Regions from separate parts of the Homo sapiens genome. Here regions 1, 2, 3, 4 and 5 are each reported to be linked to region 6. Evidence: microRNA targets listed by miRTarBase, many of them from high-throughput screens and not tested one by one. Region 6 holds a microRNA gene; each other region holds the end of a gene's coding sequence.

Region 1 (3,999 bases), not on the chromosome of region 6:
ACGTTGTGGAACTTCGCATCAATACCAAGGGTGTTGGGGGAAAGCTTCCAAATTTTGGTTTTGTGGTTTTTGATGACTCTGAACCAGTTCAGAGAATCTTAATTGCAAAAGTAAGTGATTTAAAGGGCATAATTCAAGACTTTATTATTTCTGTTGTATATATTAATTTGGGGTATTTAAAAACCATAGAAAATCTTTTAATAATAAAGCTAAAAATAGTTATTAAATGGTATTTATGCAAAGAATAAAGATTTGTTAGTTTGCAGATCATTTTAAATTTTGTTACTTGCTTTGCTGAAGAAGGTGGGAAAGATTGCAAGATTGCATGTTAAGAATTTTGGCTGGGTATAGTGGCTCACACTTGTAATCCCAGCACTTTGGGAAGTTAAGGCAGAAGGATTGCTTGAGCCCAGGAGAGTTCAAGACCAGCCTGGGCAACAGTGAGACATTGTCTCTACAAAAAAAGAAAAATAGCCGGCCATGGTGGTAGACACCTATAATCCCAGCTACTCAGGAGGCTGAGGTGGGAGTATCACTTGAGCCCAGGATGTCAAGGCTGCAGTGAGCCATGCTTGTGCCACTGGCTGTCACCAGCCTGGGTGACAGCTGAGACCCTATCTCTGGGGGGTGGGGGGCTGATAAAAGTGTTTTATTCCTTATGCTTATCTGACTGACCTGTTCAGAGTAATCATTTCTATTGCTGTCTAACCTGCCCATGTAAATATTTTTCTTCTCTTTTATAAAGCCGATTATGTTTCGAGGGGAAGTACGTTTAAATGTGGAAGAGAAAAAAACAAGAGCTGCAAGAGAGCGAGAAACCAGAGGTGGTGGTGATGATCGCAGGGATATTAGGCGCAATGATCGAGGTCCCGGTGGTCCACGTGGAATTGTGGGTGGTGGAATGATGCGTGATCGTGATGGAAGAGGACCTCCTCCAAGGGGTGGCATGGCACAGAAACTTGGCTCTGGAAGAGGAACCGGGCAAATGGAGGGCCGCTTCACAGGACAGCGTCGCTGAAGCTCCACTGTTGGCAAAGTCTTGGCAGTGGTACATTATTCATCGTGTTTGCATTCTTGTTAATTTTTTTTTTGGCTTTGGAATGTGACACAGCCTTTTTGATCATTTCTTTGATGTGAAAAGCATCTTTGGTTATCAGTTAAATTGAGGTGGACATTATTTCCCCAATTTCACAACAGGATTCACATTGTTAATTTATAAATCTAGACTTGGAGAATTAAGGACTGAGAAATGACCATATCTTAAACTATCTACGACAAAGTGAACTTAAAAGGACATGCCCACTGAATTCAGGTCCTTTGAGTAAAAAAAAAATCTTCTGCTGCACATTTTGTTTAAGTGTTACTGTTTCTGCCTGTTAATGCTGGGAACACAAATAGTGCAATTTGTGCAATTGGAGAATCTTGCCTTTTTTCTTGGCTCCCCCCAAAAATACAAACCAACAGAAACTTGTTATGCACTCATCAAAATGTACTAATGGGTACTCTGAACTCATTAACATTGACATCTGCAACAGGAGGCAACAGGGAAAAAATCTCATCTTCTTTTCCAGTAGAAAATAGTTTGTGAAATGATGAGGGCATTTTATCTGCTTGCTGTGACCAGCGTGTGTACACATAAACCTTAACAAGACTACAAGTATATTCCAGAAGGAAATCATTTTAGTTATGAACTAAATAATAAAAATTAGAACTTCAAATGCGATGGTCTTGACTATTAGACCAGATTTAGTAGCTCCATATCTAAGATTTTTCTACCTGCCCCTCTTCAGTACAGGGATGGCTGGCTGCTCAACACACTCCTCCTCCCCTTTTTTCCTTTCTTTAAGCTGTGTACAGTGAAAATTGTCTTTACTGTATTTTTGTTCTCTGGTAATGTAATAAGCATGATGGTGCCTTCTATTAATACATCATTCCAGTCTTGCTGGTAATTTTGTACAGTATAGTGTATGAATTGCTGTGCTGCAAAGCCAAACAGCTGCAAAATGTTGAAAAATCATCGAAATGTATAAAAATTGCAGTATCTTTAAAATCAGTAAAATGGACTAGCATATTATTTATCTTGTTCTTCAGTTAACAACTTTGTGTTCTCTGTGGGAGGGAGGGAGTCCTGTGTGTTTGTGGGGAGAGGGAAGGAGGAAGTCAGTTATTTGAGTAAGCCTCTAGTTGACTTTTCTCTTAGCCTGAATGTGGACGTTGAAACATATCACTTCAGGGCTTGGAAAAGTCAGTCAACTTGACGTACATTTTTAGTGACATTTTAAAAGCAGTCAGATTCTATAAATGGCAAGTAAGCCTGAAGTGAGGATACTGCAATTTTCGGAGAAAAGAACAGCAGCTCTTTAAGTGTTTGCATTTTCTATTTGGGGGGCAGGGAACTGTCATTCATTTTGCACAATTCTTGAACTGATGTCAGCACCCGAGTGGCTCCTGAATTTAAGTCTGGGACGACATCTTTTATTTTTACATGAATCTTTAAACAATTCTGTGAGCAAAGTTTGTAGCTGCTGGATTATTGTCTGTCTTTATAGCAAGTTCCAGTAAACCACAAGTATGGCAAAGCTTATCCAATTTTATGCTTGGAGCAGTCAGTACATACCAGTTTCTGATGTTTCAGGCAGGAGTGGGGTAAATAAGTGTGACCACTTAAAGCTGCTCGTTAGCATGGAAGACTTCTCCATTCTATCTTTGTAAAACAGACAAGATATGCACTTGACATAGTAGCAAATTGGTTCTGAATTATGCAACTGTTTGCTATTTAGTAAACTAGCAAATGATGCATGTATTTTGTTTTTCATGTACTGGGCAATATGAGTAAAATCTGTCCCTTTTTCCCCCTTTGAATGAGGTCTTCCATGTTTGAGGGAAAGTCTTGCACTATTGCATATATTTTGGGGACACAGATTTTCATAGTTTCCATTTTTGGGGGGCTTAAGGATTTTTTTTTTTTCTGTTTGAAACAGTTTTATACTTTCTGATATAGTACTTGAAATTCTTACCAGAAAATTACTTTGGAGTTTTGAAGCCTTTATTAATACTACTTTTAAAGAAGCAGTTGTTTTATTGTCAATGTTTTTTTTCCCCCAAGCATATTTTCTTGTATTTCTGTTTCCATATATATATATATATATATAATTTCCAATTCAGGATATTGCCCTGCCATCCATGAAAACTGTTCTGGCACCAAAAGTAATGACAAATGTTAAGTGTAATAATAGAAAAGTAGAGCAAAGAGCCATTCAGCTTCAGTCTTTACATACCATGAATAAAACATTAAAACATCATATGGAGAAGTTTACATGGTGATTGTTCACCTGCAGTACTGTGGAGTTTTAACATTTTGTCCTCTTTTCAGTGAAACAGAGTAAAAATATTCATCTACCATTACTGTTATTTGCTGATTTTGTTTTATTTTTTGATGGTAATATTCTATCCTTATGACACTATTGCAACCAAATTGGCTTTACCATCTTGGCTTTAGTAGGTATAGAAGACAATGGATTACCATCTTTATTGCTGTAATGTGTTAAGCATTATATGCTAGTAGAATCTAGTTTAATTGTTTCAGGTGGAAAGTATTCTTTGAGTTTCCATATTGAATGTGTTTGGACTAAACAAACAATAAACTACTGATGTCTGCAGCATTTATCTATGTCCCTAATTTAATCTATAGTTTTTATTGTTCCCAAATGTTTTCTCCCAGTTGCATTTCATACAAACTAAGTGGGAATAATAAGCAGTTGGGTTTTAAAACAATTTATTTGTGAAATTTGATACGTATAAAAAAAGTAAAACATTTAAGTAACACTTGACCATTGTAAGAGATCTATTCCGTCCAGTTAGACTGCTGGTATACAGGTTGAATGTTAGAATAATAAGTAGTAAGAATGATGAGAATGATCTAAAGCAGATTACAACCTTGGATTTTCTAAAGTATTTTCTGCCTTGCATCTCACAAGAAAGGAGAAGGGAAGGGATGAG
Region 2 (3,921 bases), not on the chromosome of region 6:
TGCTTCGTATGGGGTGTCTTCGTTGCCCCTGGTGGGAGGAGAAGGAAGACTCAATGCTGAGGGAAATGGGCTCTTAGAGGACAAGAGGGCCTGCCACTCACCTGTAGAAGGGGTGACCTTTGGTGTTAGGCCCCACAACTTCCATGCTGCTGGTGTAGACCAGGAACCGTGTTCCGGTCTGCACACAAGCCTCGATCACGTTCCGGGTACCTGGCAGAGGAGGAGGCGTATCCAAGCTGCAGCTTCTTCCCTCTCTGCATCTTCCTCCTCCCCATCCCAGGTCCAGGGAAAACCATGACAGGTCAGGGGAGGCGGGGGCAGGGCTGTCAATAGGACAACTTGTCCCAGGGGAGTCACCGGAGGTCAAGGCCAAAGACAGAGTGGGGAACAAACAGGCAAGATGGCCAGGAGTGTCCAGAGCTCCTCACCCTGCACGTTGACCTCATGGATGGTCTTGGGACTGGCCCTGCCAAACACGTCTACCAGCCCAGCCGTGTGGATGACCACATGGGCTCCGGCCACAGCTGCTGCCACCTCATGGGCCTGGGTCACGTCCCCCTGGATGGCAGTCACCCTCACAGGCCCTGGCCGGGGTTGGAGGACACAGGCCATGTCAGAGCTGGGGCCAGAGGCCAGAGGCTGGGTTCATCTTCCACCCTGGAGTCACGTTCCCAATGTGACTCACTCGACCCATCCATGTGGACAGAAACCAGCATCATCTGTTCCACTGCAGGGGTGGGGATCCCAGCTTGGGAAGGGTTGGGGAAGCGTCCACACCCTCTCCACCACAAGCTCCCCCAACAAGAACCTGTCTTCAGCTCCTCCAGCCAGGGACCCAGGTGTTGGTCAAAGACCCGCAGCTCCCCGAGCCGGGGCTCCCGCTGCAGCAGCATTCGCACCACGTGCTCTCCCAGGAAGCCACAGCCCCCTGTGACCAGGTACACCAGCTTCTGGGCCTGTGCAGAGTCGGCCATGCCTGGCTGGGGAAGAGACCTTGGCTCATCCAGGGGCTGGCTGCCACCTGCTGCAACCACCTGTTACTGCTGGAGGTGCCCTGGAGCGGTGACGAGGCTGGCGTTTGCGGGGAGGGCAGAGCTGATCCTGGGAGCTGCAGCAACCAGGCCACCTGCCGTCTGCCCCTGCTGATGGCTGAGTTACGGAGAGAGGGGCGGGCTTGGGGTGCAGGAAGGGGTCAGGGTTTAGGGAGAGAGATTTGAAGGCAGTAAAAGGGTGGGGAGGCCAGGAGTTGAGGGAGGTGGAGGGAAGGTTATAGGAAGGTGGGAAGGGCCGGATGGAGGGAAAGGCCACCTGGGCACTGGCAGCGCCTCTGCCTACCTGCAGCCGCTATCCCAGGGTGCCCAGACTGGCCTGGAGGGGCCCTCTTCTTTCGTCCAGGGCTGGCCGGCCCGCACACCGTCCTTCCGCTGGCTCCTCCTTCTCCCTCCTGCCCCATTCCAGGAACAGAGACCCGCCCAGCCACAACCCCCACCACTCTTGCCCCAAGGCGCCCCCTGGCGGCCGCTCTGTGCTCCACTGGCATCTGGGTCCAGCGGAGAACTTGGTGGGGATGAAGCTCGAACTTGCAGAGTGGGCTGAAGGGGTCTGGGGCTGTGGGTGGAGCCAGCGGTGACCTCATCCCACAGTGTGACCTCAGGCCTTCCCTCCTGCTGGGCTTCCCAGGAGGCCGGAGGTCCAGCTGCAGCTGTGATTGTAGGAAGGGGAGGCCTGACCTTGGCACCACCCTGGCGGGCACTGGTGGGGTATTCCTGGTGCGGGTGCGGCTGCTGCAGCCTGTCAGGGGGTCCGAGACAGTCTCGGACTGTCTCTGCAGGTCTGGGCTCTTGCCTGAAGGCCCCTTTACCTGCCCCACACTTCAGGTACCCACTTTTCCCTCTCTTCAACTTGCACAACCCTCCGTGCCCTCTACCCCCAACCCCTCGCTCCTGCCCAAATACACCGACCAAACACTTTTGTACAATAAAGTTTAATCACAATTATAAAAATGTGGCGTCGGGTTTGCGCTATTAACATATGTACAGTCCAGCCCAGCAAAAGGGACCCACCCCGCCATCCTGGCCTGGCTGAGCCGGGGAGTGACACCAGGGTGGAAGGGTGACCCTCAGGGTCTGGCAGGAACAGATGAGGCAGGGTTCCAGGCACGGAGTCCCCAGGACTGGGGGTGCAGAGCCCCCCCAGGGGGAGAACATGGCCACTGCCCCAGAGACCCCTAAACTGGGGAGGGGTACACGCAGGGCGTAAGGGGAAGTCCCCATTAACACAAAGCAAGAGGACTGTGTAGCCCCCCAGGACAGAATCTGTACAGGCCGGCACCCCAGGTTTCCACAGGAAACAGCTGCTGGCTGCTACAAAACATTTACAGCTTCTTCTCCGCAAAGAAAAACAATCAGGGGGTGGTGGGCAGGGGTGACAGGAGAGGCAGAAGCTGCCTCCAGGGACTGAGGCTCCCTCGCTGGGCTTGGGGCCCCCAACCCCACGCTTGGAGATGGGGGCATGTGGGCCCTGCTGAGCCCACTAAGGCTGGGGGGGTGCTGGGAGCTCAGGGCACCAGGGGGAATAAATAGGGGTGTGGGCACCCATCCTGCCCCACCTCAGTTTAGGGAGCCCCGGCAGCTCTCTGTGCCACACAGACACGGGATCTTGTTGTCTTCCAGTGGGAACTTGTAGTCGTAGGTGATCTCCTCGTCCACGCCAATGGGCTGCTTGGAGTAGATCACGATCTTCTTCTGGGACTCGATGGTGATGACCTTGGCGTAGCAGTTAGGCTGCGGATGGAAGGGCGTGTGAGCCGTGGCCACCCCCACCGACCCCCAACTCCTGCCCCGGCTGGCCCCTGGCGCACCGTGCAGCAGTGGTTGATGAATCTGGCCAGGTTGCCACACTTGGTGGCATCGATGATGGTGTCGTGGTCCACCCGGAACAGGTAGCTGCTGCCAATGCCCTCCTGCACGTAGCGCTTCTCCCGCATGTCGGCCACCATCTGCCAGGGTGAGATGCGATGGTCAGGGAAGAGTCCCCCACTTCCTGCCCCTGAGCACGCCTGCCAGCCAGCACCCCAGGTCCACGCCCACCAGGCCTGGAGCTGCAGCTCTGCCTCCAGCTCCCGCTAACCCGGCACTGACTCTCTCGACTCTGCTTCCAGGAGCCCTCCCTCTTTGGGGCAGCATCCTAAGCCTCTGGTGGCCATTCTAAGTCACCCGCAGGGAACTCCAGGGAAATCTGCACTGGGTAAGAGAGCCACTGACTCCTTCGAGCATCTGCCTGGTCACAGTGGGGTCCCGGACTGCTGGGGCAAGTCTGGGGTTGGGGCAGCTCCTGAAATGACTGGCCATGTCACCAACGGCACCCTGCTCATCTCTCCTCCCTGGACCTCTCTCCAAAACAGGCACCTGTTGGCTGCCACCGGCTAATGCAAATGGCAGGCCGCCCATGTCAGGCCCCGCACCTCCGTGTGAGGAGCAACCCTTACTTCCCAGAAGACAGTGAGGAGCCTCTGCACGCCCTCCTCGGGTGACCTCACTCCCTTCCAGAGCCTCAGCCGCCAGCTATGTGGTGGGGACTCCTCCCAAACTTCCATTTCCAGCCAAAAGCCACCTCAGTGGAGCTGCTGGGCGTCATCCCCTAGATGTCCCTGGGGCATTGCAACCCCACATGTCCAGACTGGAGCTCATCTTGACCATATATTTGTTCTTCCTCCTCACACCCATCTCACTGGCCCTCCCATCATACTCCCAGCAGCTAAGAGCAGCACCGAGAGAGGGCCTCCCGTCCCCCTCACCCTCTCACTGCTGAGCCCAGCCAACCACCTTGCACCCAAAGCCTCCTCTCTGTCACCTCTGCTGCCACTGCTTGGGTCGGGCCACCCTTGCCTTTGCCTGGATACTGGTGTCAGCCTAGACATGG
Region 3 (3,999 bases), not on the chromosome of region 6:
AGGCCAGACCTGCCTTTGGAAGGTACAGGGTGTGGACCCCAGCCTGTGGCGTGGCCCTGGGCTGCAACCCTCCTGCCATGGGCCCCGAGGATGTCCTTCGCCGTCTTGCGAGTGCTCCTGCACGTGGCGGTCCGGACTGTGGAGTGGGTCCACATGCTCCCCAGGGGCTGGGTTAGGGTAGGCGTGGGGTCCGGGTACTTAGCCTGCCTGTGGCTGCACAGGGACTGCCACCCTCTCCTCTTGCCAGTGTCCGCAGAGACCCTGGACCTGAGGGAGTCCCGGGCAGGAGGCAGGAGCCTGTGCTCTGGACCCAGCTGTGTTACCAATTCCCTGTATGACGTTGGACAGGTCCCCTCCTCTCTGAGTCAGAAGATCACCAAGGCCTGTTCCATCTGGAATGTTCTCGGCCTTGTAAAGTGTTTGGCCTCAACGGGCTGGAATTAAACTGGCTTTGCAGGAGAGCTACTGTCTTCCTACATAGCCAAGTCCCTGTGCCCCTCCCCTGCCCATGAAATGTGATTCTCTGCTTAGTGACAGGTGCCTTGTTTAACATAGAGGGAGTCTAACTGGAACCTGTTTTCCTTCTTCTTTCTAGGTGTTTAATGACGACCTTACCAAGCCAATCATTGATAATATTGTGTCTGATCTCATTCAGATTTATACCATGGACACAGAGATCCCCTAAGGTCCTGGCCCAGGCCTGCCCAAAGAGAAGCCCAGGATGGTCGGCTGCCTGGGGACATTGTCACCACGTCGCCATGACGGCTGGTCCCCACAGGACCAGCTGGGAGGACTGGTTGTGCTGCTGGAGAAGGGCTGGAGAAGGCAATGGCATGCTGCCGCTTTGCCAGTCCCTAGAAGTCGCGGTGCAGGTGATGGTGGGAGCCGCGCCTCCAGCGGGCAGGCCGGGAGTGTACTGTGTGCAGCTGACCCAAGGCAGCCACATCTGCGTTTGTCCTTTGAGAGGACTTTGACTACAATACAGGCATGACATCAATGAAAGGAAAGTCATGAAATCGATGAGACTGAATCCCTACGGATTTCTTAAAAGCCAGATTTGTAGGGAGAATGAATGTGCAACGTGGCTGAAATCTATTTTGTGTAATAAAAGGTGATACAAGTCAATAGGGACCCTTGGCTTTGCTCTGCAGCGCATGCTGCACATGGGGGTGTGAGGGGCCCTCAGAGACTGGTTCCCTCAGAGTGCTCTCAGGTAGAGTGTGTCCCAGCCATCAGGCGGCAGGCCTGGGGTTAGGGAGGATCACTTGCATTCAGAAAAGTGAGTCCTGATCGAACGTAACTAAAAGTAATGCGTTTTTAAATGTCAAGGTAGCCAGTCTGGATGGGGAGGCTGGAGAAACTCAGAGCTGTGGCCCCCAGCACCCCTCTGACTCCTTGCTCAAAAGCCAGTGGGTAAGAAATAGACCAGTCCAGGAGGCGCTCTCTAGGTCCCCTTTCAGGCTAGACGTACGTTCAGCACGTGGCGTAGGGCCGGGGGACTGGTAGGTTTACACAGGAGGGTGGGCTCCGGCTCCTGCAGGTGTGGGGGCAGGGGTGATGCAGGTCAGGGCAGAGTCTTGCTTGACTTTACAGAGCGACTATGTTCAGTGTCTTCAGAATGAAGTATCTGAGCAGATGTCACAGGCTTCCCTGGTGGGCAGGCTTGCCCTGGCTGACCTGCCCTTCATTTCGTAGAACTCCCCTGTGGGTTTTGATGATTAACTTCTCCTAAATGTGGGCTCCTGCTTTACCTGTTGTAAGCCTTTTAAGACTAATCAGTCAAAGAACCACATTTATTGAGCAGCTACTGTGTGCCCAGTCCTTGCCTGCGCTCTGGCAACCAGGTGAAACTCCTTGCTTATGTGGAGGGAGAGATGGGAAACAGAATGAGAATGTGTAGCGTGGTAGTGAAAAGAGGAAGGAAGAGAAGGTGGCCAGGGCTCAGAAGAATTAATATGGTAAAAATGGCCCTCATGGCCAGGTGTGGTAGCTCACACCTGTAATCCCAGCACTTTGGGAGGCCGAAGTGGGTGGATCATCTGAGTTCAGGAGTTTGTAGACCAGCCTGGCCAACATGGCAAAACCCCGTCTTTACTAAAAATACAAAAATTAGCCGGACATGGTGGTGGATGCCTGTAATCTCAGCTACTTGGGAGGCTGAGGCAGGAGAATCGCTTGAACCTGGGAGGCGGAGGTTGCAGTGAGCCGAGATTGCGCCACCATACTCCAGCCTGGGCGACAGACGGAGACTCTTATCTTTTTTTTTTTTTTAAAAAAAGAAAATATTCACAAACTCTACGTCTGACAAGGGGTTAATATCCAGAATATATAAGGAATTTAGACAACAGAATAACAACCTAATTTAAAAATGGGCAATAGACCTAAACAGACATTTCTCCAAAGAAGACGTACAAGTCGCCAACAGGTATGTGAAAAAATTGCTCAACGTCAGGAATCAGGGAAATGCAAATCAAAACCACATCGAGGATATCACCTCACTTCAATTAGAATGGCTACTATCAAACAAAAGAAAACAAGCTTTGGTGAGGATGTGGAGAAAAGGGAACATTCACACACTACTGGTGGGATATACTATAGCCACTATGGAAAACAGTATGGATATTCCTCAAACATTTTAAAAATAGGCAGGGGATGGTGGCTCAGGCCTGTCATCCCAGCTCTTTGGGAAGCGGAAGTGGGAGGATCATTTGAGCCCAAGAGTTCAAGACCAGCTTGGGCAACATATGAAGACCTCTTGTCTATTAAAAAAAAAAAAATTAGGCCAGGCACTGTGGCTTATGCCTGTATTCCCAGCACTTTGGGAGGCCGAGGCAGGAGGATGGCTTGAGCTCAGCAGTTCGAGACAAGACAAGACAAAAGACAAGACACAGGAAAGACAAGACAAGACAAAAGACAAGACACAGGAAAGACAAGACAAGACACATTTTAGCATTCAAATACATTTTAACATTCCAAGAAACGAAGAGTGGGTTCTGGAGTTAGACCACTTGGCTGTGAAGGCTGGTTCTATCACCCGTGTATCTTGGGCTAATTCATCCACCCCTTTTTCTTTTCTTTTTTCTTTTCCCCTTCCTTCCTTCCCTCCCTCCCTCCCTTTCTTCTTTTCTCCTTCCCTCCCTCCCTCCCTCCCTCCCCACTTCTTTTCTCTTTTCTCTTTTCTTTTCTCTCTTTTGCAATCATGGCTCACCACAGCCTTGGCCTCCTGGGCTCATTCGATCCTCCCACCTCAGCCTTCTGAGTAGCTTGGACTACAGGTGTGCACCACCGTGCCTGGCTAATTTTTTATTTTTATGTTTGGTAGAGATGAAGCCTTGCTATGTTGCCCAGGCTGGTCTCAAACTCCTGGACTCAAGCGATCCTCTAACCTTGGCCTCCTAAAGTGCTGGGATTACAGGCGTGAGCCACCATGCCTGGCCCGGTATGTTAAAATGTAAAACCAATAAGGAACATAGTAGTTGCTTGAAATAACAGGCAATCATTGTGGTGGGGAAAATTAGTGCCCGCCAATTCTAGATAGGATCATGTGCTTCATGTTCATCTCTGGAAGTCCAGGGGACACTATAGATGTCACTGTAAGCACTTAAGAGCAAAGGTGTAAACATCTATTTTCTCATGTGAACTTCCAGAAAGAAAGGACTCTGAGGTGACAGAATTGCAAGCCAGAAACAGCCTCCGTGCCTATATTTCTTCTGGAACCTAACAGAGCCTCCCACGTGCATGGAACTGTGCTGTGGGTGAGAATAAAGCTGCTTGATTCAGGTATAAGAAAAAGGAGGAGAGACACAGACAGACACACGCACAGGGAGAGACAGACATGGGAGAAAAACCACACGACAACAGAGGCAGAGGTTGGAGTGAAGCATCTACAAGCCAAGGAATTCCGAGGACGGCTGGCAATGCCCAAAGCTAAGAGGAGGTCCTGGAGCAGATTCTGCCCTGGAGCCTTCAGAGGGAGCATGGCCTGCCCATGCCTTGATT
Region 4 (3,000 bases), not on the chromosome of region 6:
GTATCCTGCCGTGGGGTTGACTTGAGTATCCTGCCGTCTCCTTGAAATTCTTAAGTGAGGGGGATCACTGGCCAGGGAGGCGTGAAGCAGACAAGCCTATAGGTACAGCAGTTGTTACTACACTCCCTAGAGGATGAAGAGAACTTCAGGCTTTCCTGAACCATCTGCCTATGAGGGGAGGTGGAGAAGGAACCAGGCCTCATGGAGCACCTTCGACCCAGGTGCTCTGCTTATTTAAATCTCCCCAACCTCACAGATCTTATCTCCACTGGCAGATGGTCAAATTCTTTCCACTGACACTGCCTCAGGCATAAGTGGCATTAGCCTGGAATTCAAGCAGCTTTTGCCACTACCTGGTAAGCCTCGGTGGTGGGAAGTGTCCCTGGAGACTGATGGAAGCAGAGCTAAAAGAGCCACATGAGGCTGGGCACAGTGGCTCACGCCTGTAATCCCAGCACTTTGGGAGGCTGAGGCAGGTGGATCATTTGAGGTCAGGAGTTCGAGACCAGCCTGGTCAACATGGTGAAATCCGGTCGCTACTAAAAATACAGAAATTAGACAGGTGTGGTGATACACGCTTGTAATCCCAGCTACTCGGGAGGCTGAGGCAGAATTGCTTGAACCCGGGAGACGGAGGTTGCAGTGAGCCGAGACCGCACCACTGCACTCCAGCCTGAGCAACGAAGTGAGACTCCGTCTCAAAAAAAAAAAAAAAAAAAAGCCACACGAGCTCACAGCTCCTGGGACAAACTTTGCATTTTGGACACTACGCAAGACCACGGCTGGAAACCTACCCTTTTCTAACTCATAAAAGCATATTAGGATGCATGTGGGTGAATAGGTTCAATTTACTCTAAGGAAATCCTTGACAAAACAGTTAACTCACTCGTGCCACACCTCAGTCCAAATTACTGTAGCCACTGCCCAATAAAGGGCCACCCATTAGCTAAGGGGCAGCAGTCCCCATGACTAGGGTTTTTCTCTTTGAAGGACCACCAGCAGTGGTTAGTTGCCTGCGGGTCTACTTCACACTGCTGGAGTTGCTTTCAGGCCTAGCCTGCATGGACATCTTTTCATGTTTCTCCTCTTACCTGACTCAAGCTGGCTCAAATTCTAACCCTCTGTCACTTAAGTCATGTCTGTCTGGAGAGGGCCTTCCAGAGAACCATGATTCACATGGGCCATTCAAGCCAGTCCCCTAGGAATAGTGGGACCAGAGGGGTCTTCATGCCCCCAACCCTCCTGTGTGGAGAGCTTGCTTGAGCTCTGGTCTCTCACCAGCTTCTTCTCAACCTGGAAGTTTGTAGCATGTATCATTTCTTGGGTGATAAGTCCTTCCATTTTCTTACCCATTTCTTATCACTCAGGTTCTACCATTCTTCAGGTCTATTACAGATTTGTTGAACAAATCTTCTCCAACCTTTAATCATATCCAATTATCTTCTCCCATCAGAAAACGTACTCTTACCTACTTTTCCAGCCAGAACCACCTATTAATGTCTCATTCATGCCCAGATGAAGGCCAATGCCACGCAGCCTAAAGGGGTTGTCTCTGGTCTCCTACCTATACCCACCTTTCAGTGTGTCTGCCTAGAAGGAAATGAGTAATGACCTCTCACAGTCCCTCAGGTTACCCTCACTGTCTACACCTTACTCCTCTTCTGTATGCTTAACACCATCTCACCAAACCAGGGCCTACTTTATGTTCCTAGCAGTAGCTCACAGGGGTATGGTGTGTTTGTGTAACTTTTCAGCACCTTCTCTTTTTCCTTTCAATGATGCAGGGCAATTCTGCACAGACTTACAAACTGTGCATGTAAAAGTGTAAAAGCATGTATCCTCTTATTGTAGTCTTAAAAAGCTCGTGGAATCTAGGGACACAGAAGATTCTGTGGCACAGATTTAGGTACAGAGCAAAATACTCACTGGAAAAATCAAGTATTGGCTAGCTACCACGGGGATTTGATCCTAGCTGGCAAACGTGGAACTCCGCAAATACTTGGAGCCATTAATTATGTATACTTGTTTTATTCATAATTTGTCATGTTCTGGGATACCAAAAGTAATAATGGCTGAACTTAACAAAATTTGTAACCTCATCTTAATATCCACTGATCCATCTCATTCAATGGTAACAGTCAATGTTTTCTAAAGGAACATAAAAACAAACATGCACACAATTGCACAGTTTTCATAAAGGTCTATTTCATTATTGGTGGGTAGCGCATTTAACAGTTAAATACATTTAAATAATGTATAGGTGACTGCAGGACTGCAGCATTGGTAACTAGATAACCAACTAGAAACCAGCTAACAAAGAACTGTCTAAATACTTAAAATACAGCTCTTGTTGAGATCATCCTTTGTTTTGATCATCTTCTTGGGGGAAAAAAGCCTGCTGCTGGTCACAATGGAAATATATTAAGGCCAAATCTTCTGATATCCATTCCCAAAGGTTTCTTTCAGCTGGATTAAGCCTCCAACTCCAGGGCGAGCCCAACCTTGTGGCCTCCAGCATTAATGCTCTTCCCATCTACCAGAGCAGAGAGTGTAAGCTTCACACCTATTAAGACAAAAAAACACAAAAACAAAAAACCGTGATGTACCTGGCACGTCACTCAGTCTGGGCCTTCTTTCACAGTCATCCCCAGAGCCTGCCTGTCACTTCCTCAGCCTGTCAGCTGACCTACTAGTGCTGGCCACCAGAGGGCGCTTGGAAGTATCTGAGACACCAGAAGAACTGGGTTACCATTCTAGCTAAGGCACCAAGTCACAGAGAAATGTTTTAATAACAACTTCAAAGTGTTCTAGAATATACTATAATGTTGAGTATACTATCCCGATGAAAAGAGACTAAAGACATAATCATAATTCGATCCTAGAAAGGAAAACCTACAATAAAGACACATTTGGGAACGGGGGTAAATCTGAATATGTATTTGGTATTACATTAATGTTAGTTTTCTTAGATGCGACAATGGTATTGTGCTTATAAAGAAA
Region 5 (3,999 bases), not on the chromosome of region 6:
TGTGGGAACCCCTATCAAGGCACCTTGCTGGCCCCGGCTGGACCTCCTCTCTGACCGCTTGTCCTCTGCTTTCTTCCCAGGACTTTGGGGCTGCAGGGAGCCCCCGCCCACTGGGGCGGCTACTGCCCAAGGTACAAGAGGTGGCCCGGTGCCTGGGGGAGCTGCTGGCTGCAGCCTGTGCCAGCCGGGTGAGTGTACCCCAAACCCCCACACCCACGCTGGGGCCCAGGCCAGTTTAGTGCTTCCCCGCCCTCGTCCAGGCCTGCCTAATCCTGCCCTCCCGCAGGCCCTGCCCCCGTCCTCCTCCGGGCCCCCCTGCCCTGCCCTGACGTCCACCTCACCCCCGGTCTGGCAGCAGCAGACCATCCTCATGCTGAAGGAGCAGAACCGACTCCTCACCCAGGTAGGGCAGGCGCGGGAGGGGTGCAGGGGTGGGGGTGAGGCCCCGCAGGCCTTGACCAACTGTGCACCTGCCCAGGAGGTGACCGAGAAGAGTGAGCGCATCACGCAGCTGGAGCAGGAGAAGTCGGCGCTCATTAAGCAGCTGTTTGAGGCCCGCGCCCTGAGCCAGCAGGACGGGGGACCTCTGGATTCCACCTTCATCTAGTCCTTGTGGGCCGCGTGGGCCCCCAGGGCCAGCCTGGCACTCAGCCCTTCGAGGGTGGGCGCCCCATCGCACCCACCCTCTCTGGCTGGAGACCCCCGGCAGGCCCAGGCACAGTCCCGGAGTGGGCGCCTTCCTGCCGCCCTTGCCAGATGGGCTCCCCAGGCCTGCCCCCGGCTGGTCCCCGCACCGAGCGCTTGACTCCGTTTTGGCTCCTGGTGCTGACATGGGCTGGGGCTCTCTTGAGTCCGCATAGTCCGCAGCTACTACTGCCGCTGTCAGTGGACAGTGGGGTACCCCTCCATGAGTTAGCGTCCCCCCGTTTCCAGCGGTGCCGCCCTGGGTCCCATCTTCAGGGAAAGGCACTGCCCACGCCAGGCTGCACTTCCAACAACGGGCAGCAGAGGGCGCGGGGCGGCTCCGACGCGGGTCCAAGGGCAGCTTCCCGCTCAACCAGGGCACCAGGACGAGGTGGCTGTAGCTCGGACGGACGGAAGTAGATGGAGGGGGTGGGGACGGCCTGTAAGCGGGGGGTGCCTGCCTGGCTGGGGAGCCCCAGGGATAGCGGTCGGACTTCAGGTTCTGGCCAAGGCTGAGGGACCCTGGCTGCAGCGGATCGGCACGCCGGGTGGGCGAGAGCTTGGCCTGCATGTGCCTCCCACAGACCCTGGGGTGATGGCCTTCCCCCTCTTGGCCGGGACGTTGCCCCACGTTGAGTCCCACACAACATCCTGTGAGCCTGGCTCCCCAGGAGGGCCCCCAGACAGCTCCCAGGCACGTCATAGGCAAAGCCTGTTCCCCCGACTCAGGATTTCCAAGGCCTGGGGTCCTGCTCACCCCCCTTTGCTCTCACGCCCAGCCTGTCCCCAGGTTTCAGCTGGGAGAGGCCACCTCCCTCAGCCAAGGAAAACGAGAACCCCCAGGGTACAGGAGGAGGCTGGGGCAGGTCCCCTTGGGTGTCACTCCCTCAGCCCCTGCCCAGGCCCACTCCCGCTGGTGCTGGAGTACGCACTGGTGGGGGGGCCCTGCTCAGCCCAACCTGGAGGGTCCCAGTGTCACCAGAACCAGGGGCACGGCAACAGCATCGATGGGTTCTGCAGCCCAGGGCCCCCGATGCGGGGTCAGTGCGTGGGGGGCGCAGGGCCCCCGATGCCGATGCGGGGTCAGTGTGTGTGGGGCGCAGGGCCTCCGATGCGGGGTCAGTGCGTGGGGGGCGCAGGGCCCCCTCGTGTCCAGGGCACTTTGGTACACTGTCCCACAAGGCACCTGTCTCAGAGGAGGGGCCCTGGCAGGCAGCGTGGCAACTCCCTTCCGGAGCCCAGCTCCATGCTAACCTGCCCACAGCAACCCCACAGAGCCACATTCCCTGCTGCACCTGGTCTGCAGGGGTGTCCCAGGACAGGCCCAAGTCAGCCCAGCATGCAGCTGCCCTCCTACCCTGAAGATGGGAGTGGGCTTTCCAGGGGACATAAGGATGTCAGGCCTGGACCTCCTGGGCAGGAAAGGGTGCAGGTCCTGAGGGCCTGTGCCCCACAGCCCCAGCACCAGGTGGACTGCAGCGCAGTGGGTGGGCCAGTGGCAGCCAGGGAGAAGCCCCCCGTCAGCAGGCTGGGGTCTGCCCACCAGGGCCTCCCCACGTCTGCCTTTGAGGGTGCCTGCCATGCCCTGGGGGATCCTGGCATCTTTACTGGACTGGAAGCAGGAGACAGAACAGTGTCTGTCCCGGGGTGACTTCATCAGGAGACCGCCCACATAGAGCTGGACCCCGCAGCTGAAGCGGAAATGTGAGACAGGCTGGCACCTCCGGAAAAACTGCCTTTCAGCCTTGGTGTTCCGTGCAAGGTGAAAAGAAATAGGTCCTCCCAGTTTACAGCTTGAAATCAGGCTAGTGAGTGGCCCTGGAGACCACGAGGGGAGAATTTAAAGGCCCCGGCTGGCAGGGTCTAGGTGGCTGGCAGAGGCACATGCAGACCCTGCCTGGAGCCTGCCCTAGGACGCTGGGCGGGTCAGTCTCCGTGCAGGATGTGAGCAGCGTCCCTGGGCTCTATCCGCGAGGTGCCAGTAGCGTGTGCAGGTACATACACGTGCGTGCACACTGTGATGACACCCGGAAATGTCTCAGGATGTTGAAATGTGTCCTTGGGGGCAGAAGTGTCCCCAGTTGAGAATCTGCCCCAGAGGAACACACCCACACCAGGCCTCAGGATTTTGTGTTGATCAAGTTCCAAGGAAAAGGAACATCTCAGCCGGGCGTGGTGGTTCACGCCTGGAATCCCAGCACTTGAGGCCAGGAGTTCCAGAGCAGCCTGGGCAACGCAGTGAGAGACCCCATCTCTACAAAAAAAAAAAAGAAAGAAAGAAAATGAGAGATCCAGGTTTAAAAATTCATAAACACCACAAGGAAACAATACACTATGAGACCCAGCAGAAGCAACAGATTGACTCTAGACCCAGATACTAGAATTATCAGAGAGAATATAAAGTAACAGTGTTTTATATATCTAAAGAAATAAAAGAGATTTCTGGAAACATGAACAAGGAGTGGTATTTATAGTTCCTTACTCCATGAAAAGCATGATCTCTTAATGCTATAAAGAAGACTAGGCCGGGCGCAGTGGCTCATGCTTGTGGTCCCAGCACTTTGGGAGGCCGAGGTGGGTGGATCACCCGAGGCCAGGAGTTTGAGACCAGCCTGGCCAACATGGTAAAACCCCGTCTCTACTAAAAATACAAAAATTAGCCAGGCGTGGTGTCGGGCGCCTGTAGTCCCAGCTACTCGGGAGGCTGAGGCAGGAGAATTGCTTGAACCCAGGAGGCAGAGATTGCAGTGAGCTGAGATGGCACCACTGCACTCCAGCCTGGGCTACAGAATGAGACTCCGTCTCAAAAAAATAATATTAATAAAATAAACATGTATCGGTCGGGTGCAGTGGCTCACACCAGTAATCCCAGCCTTTTGTGAGGCAGAGGCGGGAGGGTTGCTTCAGCCCAGGAGTTTGAGGTCAGCCTGGGCAATACGGCAAAACCCTGACTCTACCAAAAATACAAAAATTAGCCAGATGTGGTGGCTCATGCCTGTGTTCCCAGTTACTGGGGCTGCTGAGGTGGGAGGATCACTTGAGCCCAGGAGTTTGAGGTTACCATGAGCTATGATTGTGCCACTGCACTCCAGCCTGAGTGACAGAGCAAGACCCTGTCTCAAAATAAATAAAAGAAAGAAAAGAGAGAATTCGAGAAAGCCCAGACTTTTGGAATTTTTTTTTTTTTTTGAGATGGAGTCTCGCTCTGTCGCCCAGGCTGCAGTGCAGTGGCGCGATCTTGGCTCACTGCAAGCTCCACCTCCTGGGTTCACGCCATTCTCCTGCCTCAGCCTCCTGAGTAGCTGGGACTACAGG
Region 6 (3,999 bases):
AGGCATCACCTGGTGACCAAAATCATTTAGCCCCAATCTTATCACGCCTCCAGTTTACAAGAAATACAAGAGTTTTAGAAAGCAAATGAGCAACCATCAGACGAACCCAGAATGTGGAACATTCTACAGACGAAAACTGACCTGGACTTCCCAAAAAGTCCACGAAAAAATACAGGGCGAGGGAAATAGGTATGGGACCATTGTCTTCTAGGAGCAAAACAAAGACATTTAACAACCAATATAATTGAACTGGATCCTAGGTCGGGAAAACGACGTGGAGGGGAGGACTGAATATAGATTGGATGTTAGATGTTTCATGGAGTGATTGTTGGCTTTCCTATGTGGCACAGTAGGTGTTAAAGTTATGCTAAGAGACTGTCTTTATTCTTAGGAGACACCTGCACATGCACCTCAGAGTAACATGTCGTGCTGCCTACAATTTTTTGGAGAGCTAGAGATGCATATATATATATATATATATATATATATATATATATATATATATATATATATATATGAGAGAGAGAAAGCAAATGTATTAAAACGTAAGCAGTTGTTAAATCTAGGATTATTGTACAACTTTTTCAAGTTTTGTATATGTTTGAAATTTTTTAATGAAAAGTTGGCGGGAATTATATCTAGTATTTCATGTTCAGTGTTCCTCAGAACTCTTATTTCCTGCCTCATGAAAGCCTTTATCTTTTTACTTTGCAGTTCGGGACCGAGTGAGATCGAAGATGGAGAGAGACATCTTGGCAGAAGTGAATCACCCCTTCATTGTGAAGCTTCATTATGGTAAGTAGAGTCAAAATGACACTTTAAAGAGGACCCAGGGCAACCTTCTCCAGATCAAAGAAAATTGAAAAAGAAATAACAGATCAGAAAGAAGAAAATCTTTCCTATACCATAGAGTCCTGCCCTGCCTGGGGAGGAAGGTGCCTTCTATCCTGATCACTTAATCTCTTCTGTATTTATTTTCTTTGAAAGAGCAAGAAGCCCTGTTTTCATCTCAAAGATCTAATTTTAGATGGGGTATCCATTATTAAATTATTACCATACCATTGATAATTTAGAAGATCTTAACCTAGATTGGGGTGAATCTATGACTTATTTTTGTGTTGTTTTAGAATAAAATACTCTATGACCCAATAATTTCTTTAAACCAGAAATGGTAACACCTCATTTCAAATGAATATCATGTTTAAAGATAGTAGTTCGTTGAACCCTCAAAACTTCTATTCAAGGTAGCTTATTATTTTCATGTTCTGAGGCTCAAATAATTAACCAAAGGCCACATAGCTGCTTTGCCACACAACTTCTCTTCATTTGCTGTCTGCCTTTTTATCCCAACAGAGAAGCAGTAAGTGAAATCTTCAAATTTAAAAAAGATGTGATGAGATGGTGGCTGCAGATTCATGGCTTATTACATTAAACTTTCCCACCTAATAATCCAGATGAGCAAAGTACAGAAGGGAACAGCAACAAAACTAATAGTTTGTTCTTGGTTGCAAAGGGCAAGGTGGTGTGTCGGGGAGGTGTTAGTGAGATTTGCGTGAATCTGAGGACAGGATGAAGGAGGCCTGCAGAAGCTGGGCACACCCTGCTGTTCCTTCTCGGCCGTGGGCAGCGCAGTTGCAAACCTCTACCTCCCGGCAGAGGAGGCTGCAGAGGCTGGCTTTCCAAAACTCTGCCCCCTCCGCTGCTGCCAAGTGGCTGGTGTCAAGTCCCATCCCACGTGTCATTTACATTACTTGCTAGGGTGCTTTTCTGAAGAAATTGAGAACTGGGTGTCCTACAAAGAGCTTTAAACAGACCTCCACATCACCTCAGTGGTGACCCAGCACCTCCACCTGCCTGCCAAGCCCAGGATGGAGCATTTAATGCACACTCAGTTTACACAGTCCTGGCAGAGGGCTTTCTAGCTGGGGGCTATGTTTCTAAAACCCCCACATTTATGATGCTTCTAGCATTTACTTTTAGAAAATAAAACGTTTTCTAGTATGCAGGGATATTGGGATCCCTTCCAGCCACACTTCCTTTGTAGATAAAAAAGATGCCACGCGGTGCCTCACCAGTGCCACTGCAGCAACCATCGTCACAGCAGCGATGGTGACGGGCTTCTCTAGACCCTCCCGTGCTCATGCGCCCGCTCAACAGAGGCAGGCCCTTGCTGAGTGTGGGCAGGAGCTGTGTAGCCTGCCTGTGGCCTGAAACAGAAAGTCTGCAGTTATAGCTCACAGTGACCAGACCTAGGACGTGAGCCCCATTGTTGATGTTCAAATAACTGGGCTGACCTATCACCAGAACTGCCTCAAGAGAGGAAGGCAAGCGGGGGGCTCCCTGGTACCAGAGTGGAGTTCTGTAAGAAGAAGGCACTTCCATAGGACGGAAAGGACATGTCCTCCAAACCCACCAGAGCCATCTTCAGGCTGCTCACTAATGCATTACGACAAAAGCCAGCAACGATACCAGCTTAAATATTCACATCTTTCTCCCCGTGTATCTTTCAATTCCTTTGTGATTAAAAAAGGGAGGGAGGGGAGAGGAAAGAAAGATGAAAGAAATCTCAAGGCCCCCTAACGACAGTGAGAGAGGGGCAGCGCTCACAGTGTCAGACCCCCTCTGCCGGGTGCTGCCCCTCTGAGCTGGTCACCAGCCGGGGTCCTGCCGTTTCTCAAGTGACTCAGCCTCCCGGAGTAAGCAGCACCGTGAGCAGGGAGAAGCCAGAGAGCGATGTTGCCACAGGACATTCGACAAGCTGTCAAAATGCGGGTCTCTGTCCCCCACAGCCTTTCAGACGGAAGGAAAGCTCTACCTGATCCTGGACTTCCTGCGGGGAGGGGACCTCTTCACCCGGCTCTCCAAAGAGGTGAGCAGCCGCCACATCACACAGGAGGGCGGGCAGGAGCTTCTGTCTGGGACTCGAGGGGAGGAGGGGTGGAGAGCATTGAGAGGACGTGAGCACGTGCGAGAGTGCGTGTGTGTGTGTGGGGGTGTGTGCATGTGTGAGTGTGTGCAAGAGTGCGTGTGTGGGAGAGGTGTACATGTGTGAGTGTGTGCAAGTGTGCATGATGTGTGGTGGGGGGTTGCGAGACTGCATGTGCATGTGTGGGGTTTGCATGGGGGCTGTGTGAGTGCATGTGCGTGATGTGTGGGGTGTGTATGTGTTTGAGTGCGTGTGTGGGGGGGTGTGCGTGGTGTTTGGGGTTGTGTGTGCATGGTGTGTGGGAATGTGAGTGTGTGTGCATGTGGGGTGTGCATGTGTCATGTGATAAGTGTGTGGTATGTGTGTGATGTGTGCTGTGTGTATATGTCAGGCGTGTGATTTGTGGTGTATGTGATGTGTGCTGTGTGTGATGGTGTGTGTGCTATGTGTATATGTGGGGGTGTGTTTGGCATGCTGTGTGCATGTGTGGGGTTGGTGTGCGTGGTGTGTGCTATGTGTGGGGTGTGTGGTGTGCTTTGTGCATGTGTGCATATGCAGGGTGTGTGTATGTGTGGGGTGTGTTTGTGTGTGGGTGTGTGTGTGCTATATGTGGTATGTGTGGTATGTGCTTTGTGTGGTGTGGGGTGTCTGTGTGTTTGACATCCTGTGTGCCTATGTAGGGTGTGTGTATGTATGAGTTGTGTGTGTGTGCTGTATGTGGTATGTGTGGTGTGTGCTATGTGTGATGTGGGGTGGGTGTGTGTGTGTGTGTGTGTGTTGGGTGTGCTGTGTGCATTGCTGCCTGGTTCTAAGGAAGCTGCACAAGTGGCCCTAGCAATCGTCCCAGGTGGCCCTGGCAGCGCCCCTGCAGCTCTGGGACCATAAGTCACGCTGTTGACCTCCCAGCTAGCGCAGATGGAAGGCGCAGGTCGGTGGGTAGGAGCGGCTGGGAAAGACTCTCACAGGGTCTCACTTTCCATCCTGGGAAGAGGGAGGGAAGAGGGAGGTACTGCTAAGCCGGCTGAACATTGGGGCTGTTCGGGAGCATCGGGTGTGGTCTTCGCACGCCACCT

The links. The annotated mature microRNA hsa-miR-1913 reads UCUGCCCCCUCCGCUGCUGCCA and lies in region 6 at 1,687-1,708, shown strand. An mRNA with a match to its seed (bases 2 to 7 or 8) in the 3' UTR can be bound and repressed. Matches are read on the target gene's strand: a 7mer-m8 pairs with bases 2 to 8, a 7mer-A1 pairs with bases 2 to 7 and ends in A, and an 8mer does both.
Region 1: miRTarBase lists G3BP2 as a target of hsa-miR-1913. Seed matches in the 3' UTR shown: 7mer-m8 at 2,386-2,392.
Region 2: miRTarBase lists SETD1A as a target of hsa-miR-1913. Seed matches in the 3' UTR shown: 7mer-m8 at 2,600-2,606 and 7mer-m8 at 2,213-2,219.
Region 3: miRTarBase lists CCNQ as a target of hsa-miR-1913. The part of its 3' UTR that is shown has no 7-base or 8-base seed match.
Region 4: the mRNA of VDAC2 is a reported target of hsa-miR-1913. The part of its 3' UTR that is shown has no 7-base or 8-base seed match.
Region 5: the mRNA of SAPCD2 is a reported target of hsa-miR-1913. Seed matches in the 3' UTR shown: 7mer-m8 at 1,544-1,550 and 8mer at 2,747-2,754.

What each region holds. Positions count from the first base shown.
Region 1 is chr4:75,642,449-75,646,447 of GRCh38, reverse strand. G3BP2 (G3BP stress granule assembly factor 2) reads left to right here. Exons shown (of 12, transcript NM_203505.3): 11 at 1-110; 12 at 746-3,662. The coding sequence ends at 1,018. Among named protein-coding and RNA genes, the nearest start is that of CDKL2, 14 kb to the right of the region's middle.
Region 2 is chr16:30,982,712-30,986,632 of GRCh38, reverse strand. It overlaps SETD1A (SET domain containing 1A, histone lysine methyltransferase), which reads right to left. Exons shown (of 19, transcript NM_014712.3): 18 at 2,861-2,998; 19 at 1,969-2,783. The coding sequence ends at 2,610. It overlaps HSD3B7 (hydroxy-delta-5-steroid dehydrogenase, 3 beta- and steroid delta-isomerase 7), which reads right to left and starts at 1,426. Exons shown (of 7, transcript NM_025193.4): 1 at 1,336-1,426; 2 at 809-980; 3 at 429-584; 4 at 102-210; 5 at 1-28. The coding sequence starts at 974. RefSeq lists an enhancer at 1,445-1,957.
Region 3 is chrX:153,585,051-153,589,049 of GRCh38, reverse strand. CCNQ (cyclin Q) reads left to right here. Exons shown (of 5, transcript NM_152274.5): 5 at 596-1,125. The coding sequence ends at 685. Among named protein-coding and RNA genes, the nearest start is that of CCNQ, 12 kb to the left of the region's middle.
Region 4 is chr10:75,230,461-75,233,460 of GRCh38, reverse strand. It overlaps VDAC2 (voltage dependent anion channel 2), which reads right to left. Exons shown (of 10, transcript NM_001391963.1): 10 at 2,013-2,563. The coding sequence ends at 2,472. Among named protein-coding and RNA genes, the nearest start is that of COMTD1, 4.0 kb to the left of the region's middle.
Region 5 is chr9:137,061,267-137,065,265 of GRCh38, reverse strand. It overlaps SAPCD2 (suppressor APC domain containing 2), which reads left to right. Exons shown (of 6, transcript NM_178448.4): 4 at 81-188; 5 at 287-403; 6 at 479-3,139. The coding sequence ends at 607. Among named protein-coding and RNA genes, the nearest start is that of SAPCD2, 7.3 kb to the left of the region's middle. RefSeq lists an enhancer at 680-1,457.
Region 6 is chr6:166,507,073-166,511,071 of GRCh38, reverse strand. It overlaps MIR1913 (microRNA 1913), which reads left to right and starts at 1,639; the gene lies at 1,639-1,718. RPS6KA2 (ribosomal protein S6 kinase A2) reads left to right here. Exons shown (of 21, transcript NM_021135.6): 4 at 715-795; 5 at 2,790-2,869. RefSeq lists enhancers at 3,056-3,995, 3,996-3,999.